Linked DNA regions of Homo sapiens. The gene in region 1 interacts genetically with each later gene. Each region holds a gene or a part of one and is shown in the gene's direction. Other genes may lie near its edges.

Region 1 (3,655 bases):
TTGCCCGATTCCAAACGCTCGAAGGGGGCCCTGCCCAGCTGCTGCTGCCTCCTCCAGAAGGTTGAGGAGGGGCCCTGCTGGGACGGGGCCTGCCAACAGGGGACACTCCCAGCTGCGTGATTCCCCAGGCAGCACGGTGAGGCAGGATTTGGGAACACTGCCGAAGCTGGAGATGGGAATCCTGGCTATGGCTGTCTGGACAGCCCTGGGTGGGCACTGCCGATGGCACAGTGCATGGTTGGGAGGGAGCTGCTGCTGCTTCTCCTCCTGTTGGAGCCTGACAGGGGGCAGCTAATAGGAGCCGTGGCATCTCCACTGTCCAGCCCTTCTTTGTGGCTAAGCAGCATGTGGTCTTGTCCATAGGTTGATTATTGGGCAGTAATTACTGCCAATGAAATCTCCAAAAATTATTGAATCACAGAACAACTGTGTACTATAAGCTCAGCGTAGCACAGGACTTATGGCAGCGTAGCTGGTGGGTAGGAGGGTGGCTGGTGAGTAGGAGCGTGACTGATGGAGAAGAGCATGGCTGGTGGGGAGGAGTGTGGTGCTGTAGTGTGGCTGGTGGGCAGGAACGTGGCCGGTGGGTAAGAATGTGGCTGGTGAGTAGGCACTTGGTGTGGCAGTGTGGCTAGTGGGTAAGAACATGGCTGGTGATTAGGCATGTGGTGTGGCAGTGTGGCTGGTGGGGAGGAGCATGGCTGGTGGGTAAGAACGTGGCTGGGAGTAGGAGCATGGCCGGTGGTTGGGAATGTGGCTAGTGAGGAGGAGTGTGGGTGGTGGGTAAGAATGTGTGGCTGGTGAGTAGGCGAGTAGTGTGGCAGTGTGGCTGGTGAGTAGGAGCATGGCTGGTGGGGAGGAGTGTGCTGTGGCAGCGTGGCTGCTGAGTAGGAGCATGGCTGATGGGGAAGAGCGTGGCTGGTGGGGAGGAGCGTGGCTGGTGGGGAGGAGTGTGCTGTGGCAGTGTGGCTGCTGAGTAGGAGCATGGCTGATGGGGAAGAGCGTGGCTGGTGGGGAGGAGCGTGGCTGGTGGGGAGGAGTGTGCTGTGGCAGCGTGGCTGCTGAGTAGGCATCACACTTTGAGCTTTGAAGCGAGGCAGCCCAGGGTTCTGGTTTGGGCTTCTCCTGTAATGGTCACGTCATCTTGCCCAGGTTATCTTCTGTTGGCCACAAGTTTCTTCCTGCATAGAGTGGGGTAGTGATTACCTCTAGGATTGTGAAGGTGGGGAGAGAATGCGTATAAAGATGCTGCTTCCCAGTCTAGTACTGTTTTCTGTTCTGTTTGCCAGTCTAGTGAATTGCTCGATGACCAGCCACCACTCTCCCTCATTGCAAGGGCAGATAGGAGTGAGCTGGCTCTTTCTCGAGGCAGGTAGGACTGGTGGGCCGTCCCCTCAGGAGCCAGCTGTAATTTTAGAGTCCCTGTCCCTTTTCCCGAAGGGAGTGTTTTATCATGTCTGGGTTTATATCATCATCTTATGCAAGTGTCACTGATAGGTCCCAGTCAACTTGATAGACATGAAGCAAAACACACACACAAAATCAATACAGGATAACTAAACCATTATGTAGATATTTTATTCCAGGAGATGGATTGATCATCACTATAGTAGTATCATATTATGTTTTATAGCAGGGGTCCCCAGTTCCTGGACTGTGGACCGGTACTGGTTCATGGCCTGTTAGGAACTGGGCCGCACGGCAGGAGGTGAGTGGAGGGCGAGCAGGCATGACCGCCTGAGCTCTGCCTCCTGTCAGATCAGTGATGGCATTAGTTTCATAGGAGTGTGATCCCTGTTGTGAACCGTGCATTCAAGGGATCTAGGTTGCATGCTTCGTATGAGAATCTAATGTCTGATTATCTGAGGTGGGAACAGTTTTATCCCAAAACCACTCTGCCCCCCCATCCCACCCTGGTCCGTGGAAAAAATGTCTTCCACAAAACCAGTCCCTGGTGCCAAAAAGGTCGGGGACTGCTGTTTATAGTACTGGACTTTAGAGGCTCTTCTTTTATCTTCTTTCTCCTTATCGATTATCATAGCAGCCTTCTAAAATGATCAGGGCAAGCATTAATTGTCCCCATTTTGCAGATGTGAGAATTGAACCTCAGCAAGTTTGATTGATTTGACCAAGTTGCCCTGACTAGTAGATGGCAGGTATGGACTAGGGTGTGACGTGTCACTCTGTTCCAAAGCTGTCTCTGTTCTTCCATTTCCTGCTGTTTGGAGTCATTGCTTGGTGCCATCCAGTTGCTGAAGGAGTGATGGTTTATTTATCTTATTTGAAGAGCCAGCGTGTGCTCTCAGTGGGGTGACCGTGTGCCCTAATTTATGCCTTGCATAATTTATGTCCTGTGTCAGTATTACCAGTGCCCACAATTAGCCTTGGAGGTGTCCTGGCTCTAGACATACCAAATGGAGCAAAATCATATATGAATGAAGATACTGTTTTGTAAGTGTGAAACTTACATGTGCATTTAATGAACCAAGGTGGAAACAGCCTCTGCTAACCACAGGCCTTTTCCCTCTGAGTGTGTGTGGCGCTGCCGCGCTCTGCCTGCACTTCCACTCTTTTGGTTGTAGACTTCTCAGAAGCTGACTCACATACACCTGTATATAAATACTTAGATTCTACACGTTGGATAATGATTTGATTATTTCAGCAGGTTTTGTTTTTGTTTTTTTTTTGAGACGGAGTCGTCTCGCTCTGTCACCCAGGCTGGAGTGCAGTGGCGCGATCTCGGCTCACTGCAAGCTCCGCCTCCCATGTTCACGCCATTCTCCTTCCTCAGCCTCCCGAGTAGCCGGAACCACAGGCACCCACCACCACGCCCGGCTAATTTTTTTGTATTTTTAATAGAGACGGGGTTTCACTGTGTTAGCCAGGATGGTCTTAATCTCCTGACCTCATGATCTGCCCGCCTTGGCCTCCCAAAGTGATGAGATTACAGGCGTGAGCCACCGCACCTGGCCGCATATTTCAGCAGGTTTTTCAAAGCTTTGATGTGTTTATGTGTCTGCTCTCCTGCCCTGGGGCTGGGATGGAGTTTTGGTAAAGAGTGATGCTGTGCCTGAGCAGATTCCATGTCGTTTTCTCTGTAAATATTACCTAAGAAAACTGACCTATGGTTTAGTAAGCACCTTTGTGCCCACACTGTGCCAGGCGCTTGCCCTACGTTACCGCATTTATTCTTCCTCCCTTTGTAGATGAGCCTAGAGGTTCATACCGTCAGGGGCTGACACGTGGCGGTACCTCCAGCGGGAGCCCTGGATTTTTACCCCCTGGTCTGTCTCATTCCAGACTCTAGGACGTTTCTTCTTGCACACCTCACTTTTGACGTGTCCTTTTGTGTCTACAAAATTAGTATGTTTTATGTTCATTTTCATACTTGAAAATGTTCACATTTGTCTTAGTCCACAAACCATAAATGCAGTAAAATACACCTATAGGTGACTGCTGATATATTTTAAAAATATACAGAAAGGTATGCAACCTACATATTTACTTAAAGAAAACAAGTTTAAAAAACAATTAAAAAAAATTTTTTGATGGAGTTTTGCTGGATAAAACTGAATGAGAAAGAACACAGGTTTATCCCTTGCAGGCTGCTTCTGCTGTGGGCTCCTTGAACAGCAGAGCTGCCCCCAGGCATCCT
Region 2 (3,655 bases), on another chromosome or scaffold:
CAGATACATATTTGCAGAGAATTTTAGGGGCTCAGTGACATGAACTTACCCATAGACCTTTAGCCCATAGAATCCCTCCCTCATATTAGAGCATTAGTCTAAACTTTGAATAATTTTCTTTAAAAAGTATAAACCTGGTCTTCTTAGTAATGATTTTTTTTTTTTTTTGAGATGGAGTCTCGCTCTTTTGCCCAGGCTAGAGTGCATGGCACCATCTCACTGCAACCTCTGCCTCCCAGTTCAAGCATTTATCCTGCCTCAGCCTCCCGAGTAGCTGGGATTAGAGGCCCACGCCACCAAGCTCAGCTAATTTTTGTACTTTTAGTAGAGATAGGGTTTGACCATGTTGGCCAGGATGGTCTCAAACTCCTGACCTCAATTGATCCACCCACCTGAGCCTACCAAAGTGCGGGATTACAGGCCTGAGCCATCACGCCCGGCCTGTTTTTTTGGGTTTGTTTTGTTTTTTCTTTTAAGAGACAGTCTTGCTTTGTCATCTAGGCTGGAGTGCAGCGGCCTGATGATCATAGCTCACTGCAGCCTCAAACTTCTGGGCTCAAGCAATCCTTCTGCCTCAGCCTCCCAAGTAGCTGGGACTACAGGTACACTACCACGCTTGGCTAATGTTTTTACATTTTTTTTTAGAGACGGAATCTTGCTATGTTCCCCAGGCTGGTCTCAAACTCCTGACCTCAACCAATACTCCTGCCTCGCCCTCCCAAAGTGCTGAGATTATTCTAATTTTCTACAGCTCAGTACTAGTTTGGCACCTAAGCGCACTTAGTAAATTTTTTAAATGATTCCCTAGTATTTTCTATTTTCTATTTACTATAGTTCATTTTTGAAAAATCTGTTTGCAATCCACTAGGTTTATTTTACAAGCTTCAGTGGGTCTCAGCTTTCAGTTTAAAAAAGCAATAGAACCAAGCACAGTGGTTCACGCCTGTAGTTCTAGCACTTTGGGAGGCCAAAGCAGGAAGATTGCTTGAGGACAGGCGTTCAAGACCAGCCTGGGCAACATAGGGAGATGCTGTCTCTACAAAAAATAAATTAAAAAAAAAAAATAGCTGGATGTGGTAGCATGTGCCCATAGTCCTACCTGCTTGGGAGGCTGAGGCAGAAGGATTGCGTGAGCCCAGGAGTTTAAAGTTACAGTGAGCTATGATGCACTGGGCAACAGAGCAAGACCCTGTTTTTATTTAAAAAAAAAAAATTATAGGATATGTTCTTTGAATATCTCTTATATTCATGATAAGGGTGTACATGTGGTCTTTTCTACATCTGTTCTTTCAGGGAACAACTCCAGACACTTTGCCAGTGGGTTTGTGAAAAAATGTGTCAGCTGTTTCAGTCGTTTTTGCTGGTGTCAAAGGGAACAGCTCTGTGACCCAGTTCACATTATAATACTTGGATGAATAGATATAGCCACAATATAAATAGGAAGATTAATGTTTAGCTCGTACTTCGTTTAACAAAGCTCATGACTCAGCAACCCAGAAAATAGTTTTTAAAACCCGTAGCACTTGTGAAATATTTGCCTAGAGGAAGGGAGGAGAGCATGATTTGATGACTTTTTAAAGAAATCAAAATTAAAGCAATCAAATAATACTCACATTTATATAAGAAATACTTCAATTTACTTTCCAATGAGTAAAGTTTTATATTTAATGTTTTAATATTTCATATTTTAGTTTCTTGCAATTATTTACTTTTTCTAAAACCTACTTAAATTAGGTTTAAAAGTCTACTATATATAATTTGAAATTTTATTCAGTTTGCCTACAGGTGTGTTTTAACCACTGTGTACATAGTATTTAACGGTCTGCTTTTTTTTTTTTAATAATGGTTCATGTATGAACATCTGTATGTTCATACTTTTCTTGACAAAGTTCTAAAGGTTACTGTGTTGAAGCATACTGAACGATTACTGATAATTTCTATTTTGAGGAACAGGTATGTCAGTTCTTTCTCTCTGTTTGATAATTCTCTCTTTTCCCCTTAGGAATCCAAAAATCCTTGTGGAGTGTCTTACTCCTGATTTTCGAGGTGATCTCAAAGCAATAGAAAAAGTTGCTCTGTCAGGATTAGATGTGTATGCACATAATGTAGAAACAGTCCCGGAATTACAGAGGTGAATACGTGTACAAAGTAATGTTGGGAAGTTAGGCGGGTCAAAATATGCCATATATTCTTGCCTTTTCCAGGGCTGAACTTTGCCATTGACTTTTACAAAGTAAACTCTATTCTTTTTTGTTTTTTAGGCAAACTCAATCTATGTCTCTTACATAAAAATCAGAAAATATCACCAACAAAATCAGCATAAATATCACCCATAATAGTATTTCCACCCAGCAATATCAGTTACTAACACCTTAGTGTTTATATTATAAACACTATATTTATACTACATATTTGTATTTTTATATTTATAATATACTTAATTTTTATATTACAAACATTAAGATGTTAGTAACTCATATTACTAAGTTACTGTGTGTGTTTTAATACCCACAAATAATTAACATCTTTTTTCTTTTGTTTTAAAATAATATCATACTGCAAATTTCAATAAGTTGTTTGTTTCCCCCTCCCCACAAATAAAGTTTTCAAAGGAGGGAAAAAATTACACTAGAGCAATTGCTTTGGTTGTAATTCTAAAGAAAAGACTTCAAAAATATATTTGGCTGGATGCTGTGGCTCACGCCTGTAATCTCAGCACTTTGGGAGGCAGAGGCAGGCAGATTACCTGAGGTTGGGAGTTCGAGACCAGCCTGACCAACATGGAGAAACCCCGTCTCTACTAAAAATACAAGATAGCCAGGCGTGGTGGCACATGCCTGTAATCCCAGCTACTCGGTAGGCTGAAGCAGGAGAAGAATCACTTGAACTCGGGAGGCGGAGGTTGCAGTGAGGTGAGATTGCGCCATTGCACTCCAGCTTGGGCAAAAAGAGCGAAACTCCATCTAGAAAGAGAAAGGAAAAAAAAAATATATATATATATATATATTTTTTTATATTATATATATTCATATATATTTATATATATATATTCAGCACTAATATGTGTAATAAATGATGCAGAAGAAAAACTCGTGGCTCACGCCTATAATCCTAGCACTTTGGGAGGCCGAGGCGGGCGGATTACCTGAGGTTGGGAGTTCAAGACCAGTCTGGCCAACATGATGAAACCCCATCTCTACTAAATATACAAAAAATTTTAGCTAGGTGCAGACCTGTAATTCCAGCTACTCTGGAGGCTGAGGCAGGAGAATTGCTTGAACCCGGGAGGCGAAGGTTGCGGTGAGCCGAGATAGTGCCATGGTACTCCATCCTGGGCGACAGCAAAACTTTGTCTCAAAAAAAAAAAAAAAGAAAAAAACTCATATCATTCAGATGTACTTTTTAAAAAAAGTAGACACTATGCTTTCTTATTCCTAATAATTTCAGTAATTAAGACTAATCATTGGCAAGTAACACTGATGTAAGAAAAAAAGTAAGGATTGTTATCCACATCCATTCAAATTTTAGAAAAATGAACATTTTAAGCTTCGGGCAAGAGTAATATCATTTTTTTCTTTAATTTTAGCATTTAGCAGTGATTTTATTAGCTTCTACATATGATCTGTGTCATAGAGCCTGAAAGAAGTTACAGTAA
Region 3 (3,655 bases), on another chromosome or scaffold:
CCCTTATTTCCCCTTTCCTTCAGTGGGCAGTTGTGAGCATTTTGCAAAATAGTATTCCTTAGGTGTAAACTCTGGCTCTCCAATTCAGCATGGAATAGATCTAAATAAATATCTTAAGGTAGCACTTACTGGTTACTCCCTGTTTGTGAACTCAGCAACTGCATGCATTTATTTGCCTTGTGGTATTCTTCCATATTTGAACTTGGTAATCCAAACTCCAGAAGCAAATCAACCTATCCTGCAAGGCTGTACTTTGTCCACCACCTTCCTATTGTAGTGGAAATAGACCATGAGCTCTCAGAATACCCAGTGGGACAGCAACAGGGCTGAGGGAACAGACCCTGATCTAACAGTAGAGGAAGGAACATACACTTTTGCTATGATATATCCAAGGAAATTGAATAAGCTTGGATATTTAATTTCTGTTATTCTGTTAGTTATCCTATTGATGCTCATATGGAACAGAAATAGCTGATGCCCATCATTCAAGATTTTAGTGACTACCATCCCCGCAGAGCAGAACTGAGAGTGACTGGTGGTGTTATATGCCCTGTTGATGGTAGAGTACTTTTTTTTTTAAATCTTGGGAGGCAGGCAGGTTTAAACTTTGCCAGCTGTGGTTGCTTCAGGAAGCATTCCAGTATTATCTTCAGGCCCGGTAGTATTAGGCCACAGGACCAGACTGTAGATCGATAACATCTGCCATAGGAGTAGTAATGGGGAGACTGGTGATGAGGTTGCTTCTTTGATTCTGTCTTAATTAACTTCCCTTGCCACAATTATTTCTATATAGAGGAGGTATGGAATTCGAATCTTTGCAGAGTGGGATTTTCACCTAGAATGTTCTAAATTTAAGGAAATTTTGAAGTCAAATTACCAGTTTATTTAAAGGGAGCCATTAAAGTTACAGATTTCTCGTGTTTTATTTTTCTGAGCTGTTGGGTTGTAGTCTCTAATACTTATCTACTGATGATTAACATTCTTAGTGTTTTATTAAATAGCTTCCATTTCCTTATATTTGTGGTTTTATATTTAGCGTTCTTCAGTGTGGTTTCATTATATCTAATTTGATGAAAAAAACAGCTTAAGAAGAAATTTGAATTTAATATGAATCTGGTATGTTCACAAGGGAATATTTTTGTTGGTAGAGACAGCAGCGGAGATTTAGCATTAAATGGTGAACAGCATTTTTTTCTAGAAAGTATATTATTATTTGTTTTCTAAAGATAGAGTTTATATCTTGTTAGTAATTAATTTTGTTAAAGTTTGCTTTTTACACAACTTCTCTGTAGACAGTTAATGGGAATGTCACTCTCATAATTTAATACAAATGGATTAGTGTAGGGTTGAAAAAACAATAGTGATTACTTACTGAATGGTTAACTACCATGTACCATGTAGGCAGCATGCCAGTAATCTTTCACATGTATTGATGCATTTAATCCTTGCAATAACTTGTAAGGAAACAGAACGTTATCATCCCCATTTTAAGATGAGGCTCACAGAGGTTAAGTAATAAATTGTTCAAGGCCACACAGCCAGTAAAGGTTGAATTTGGTATTTCAGACTCAGATCTGTATGACTAAAATACAACAATACCTGCCTCGTTTTCCAAGTACAACAGTGCCTTCCTGTATTTATTTTTATTGGGTTTTTTTTTGACAATATTGTCTGTACCTTTTCATTAATAACATTGACATTATGTTTTTAAAAGAGATGTGCTCTAAGTTCTATGTGAAATATGATTTCGTATTATTTTAACTTTTCTTGACCTGTGGTATGAACTGTGTTTATGCTGTGGATACTCTAATTATTATATCATTCAAATGGCCTTCTGTGCTCTCAGTTTAAAAAAAATTCAGTTTACTTGAAATAGCTAATATACTGTGAGTAACAGAAGAAAAACTTGACTGTGGAAATGTTTCTGCCCCTTATGTTTTTGGTGATGTGGTCCTTTAGCTTGAGTAACTAAAGTTGCAGAACATTTTCTTTTAATTTTTAAATATTAAAATATGTTAGGGTTATATTAAAATATGTTAATTAAAATTAACGTATTATGTTAATTGAGTTAGGTACAAAGGGAAGATAATACTGAATTTAAAGTGACAGCTAAGTCTTTGAAATACCAATAAAATCTGCATTTTTCTAAGATGACTAATAGATTTTTATTTGTTGATTGATTTTTAAAACTGAACATATAAAGTAATTTAAGTTATCTAACACAGTCTTATTAAACTTGCTTTTCAGAGTGGTTGTACTAGGTTGAAGACTTAACCATTTAGCTGCATTCTCACCAGCATTGACTATTTTATATATTATTACATCTATATTATTATATATTATATGCTATATATGTAATGCATTTTATATATCACATAATTTTTTCCCCTCATAGCTTTGCCATTTGGTAGGTGGCAAATGATTGTGAATTCCTAACAGGAATTGTTACAACTGATTGTCACAAATGATTGTGAACCACCAAAGGAAAATAAAATTCAAGTACTATAATTTTTAAAAATCTATAAAATTAAAACTTTTTTTTTCTTCAGAAACTTTTTTTTTTGCCCTAATAATGTTAATTGTTTTTAGTTTAAGCATAGAAAGTTTGGGTATTACATTACTTCTTTTGAGGGGAAGTGAAATGGAGCAAGATCAGTCTCTGTACCTTCTAAATATGTTTACCATCTCTATGTAGTAGCTTTAAAAATGTTACTGTGAAACATGGTAAGTAGTGGTGGTTGGATGTACCTTCTTATGTAAAATGAATAATGAAATCCTTCTTCTGTAATGTCATCATTGTCTGCAGAGTCCTTCGATATCTCCTAATACGAGTTTCACATCTGATGGCTCCCCGTCTCCATTAGGAGGAATTAAGCGAAAAGCAGAAGACAGTGACAGTGAACCTGAGCCAGAGGATAATGTCAGGTGAAGCCATTTTTTGGTAGCACTTTGTTAGCAAATTGCTGAAATAGATGCAGTCTAATTAATGCTATTTAGCTTAGAGCAGCAGTGCCTTCAGATGCTTGCCTGTGATCTTTTTATCCATCAGTAATTAATGTGGAGGGTTAGAATAGTCAGTAAATTCCAGTGAGATGTGTAAGCTGTAGCTGTTAAACCTAAGTGTCTAGATTAGTATGCGTGCAGGCTTTCGTCCTCCAATCCACTTTTCCCTCTGAGACCAGGCACAAGATCGGCTAGATATCATATCTAGGTGTTTAGCTCTGACTATGTGATCTGAATGTTGCTGTTTGGAGACTGATTAAATTTTCAAGCTGCTTAACCTAGAAAGTTCAGTTATACTTAGACACTTAATATAGTTTGCCTTAATCTTCTCTATTGAAAGAGTTCTTCCTCAAAATGAAATATGCAGAAATCATTCTGTTAAGAGATCAATATGTATGTTTTTTAAAAACCACAGACTTGCATATGCGCAATTATATTTCATGACAGAGGAGTTTCCCTTTAACTGTATACTTCAAATTTAAAATAGGAAGCTGATTCTTTAATTCATCCTGAAGTTTGAGATCATTATATAATAAGATTAACAACCTCTCATGTAATTAAATCCAGATTTGAACCGTGGGCTCCAAGTGCAAAAGGCCAACAATCTCAATAATTGTAGCTCATTAAGAATTTAGGAAAACGATCTATTTCA

What was found.
Region 2: changes in TUBGCP3 (region 1) and LIAS together harm fitness less than expected from each alone (positive genetic interaction), as found in Homo sapiens cells (one large-scale study listed by BioGRID).
Region 3: changes in TUBGCP3 (region 1) and XRN2 together harm fitness more than expected from each alone (negative genetic interaction), as found in Homo sapiens cells (one large-scale study listed by BioGRID).

What each region holds. Positions count from the first base shown.
Region 1 is NC_000013.11:112,550,134-112,553,788, reverse strand, and holds part of TUBGCP3 (gamma-tubulin complex component 3), read left to right. Parts: intron 1-3,655. UniProt on the Homo sapiens protein: Component of the gamma-tubulin ring complex (gTuRC) which mediates microtubule nucleation.
Region 2 is NC_000004.12:39,465,516-39,469,170, forward strand, and holds part of LIAS (lipoyl synthase, mitochondrial isoform 1 precursor), read left to right. Parts: intron 1-2,002; coding exon 2,003-2,131; intron 2,132-3,655. UniProt on the Homo sapiens protein: Catalyzes the radical-mediated insertion of two sulfur atoms into the C-6 and C-8 positions of the octanoyl moiety bound to the lipoyl domains of lipoate-dependent enzymes, thereby converting the octanoylated domains into lipoylated derivatives.
Region 3 is NC_000020.11:21,341,284-21,344,938, forward strand, and holds part of XRN2 (5'-3' exoribonuclease 2), read left to right. Parts: intron 1-2,806; coding exon 2,807-2,925; intron 2,926-3,655. UniProt on the Homo sapiens protein: Possesses 5'->3' exoribonuclease activity. May promote the termination of transcription by RNA polymerase II.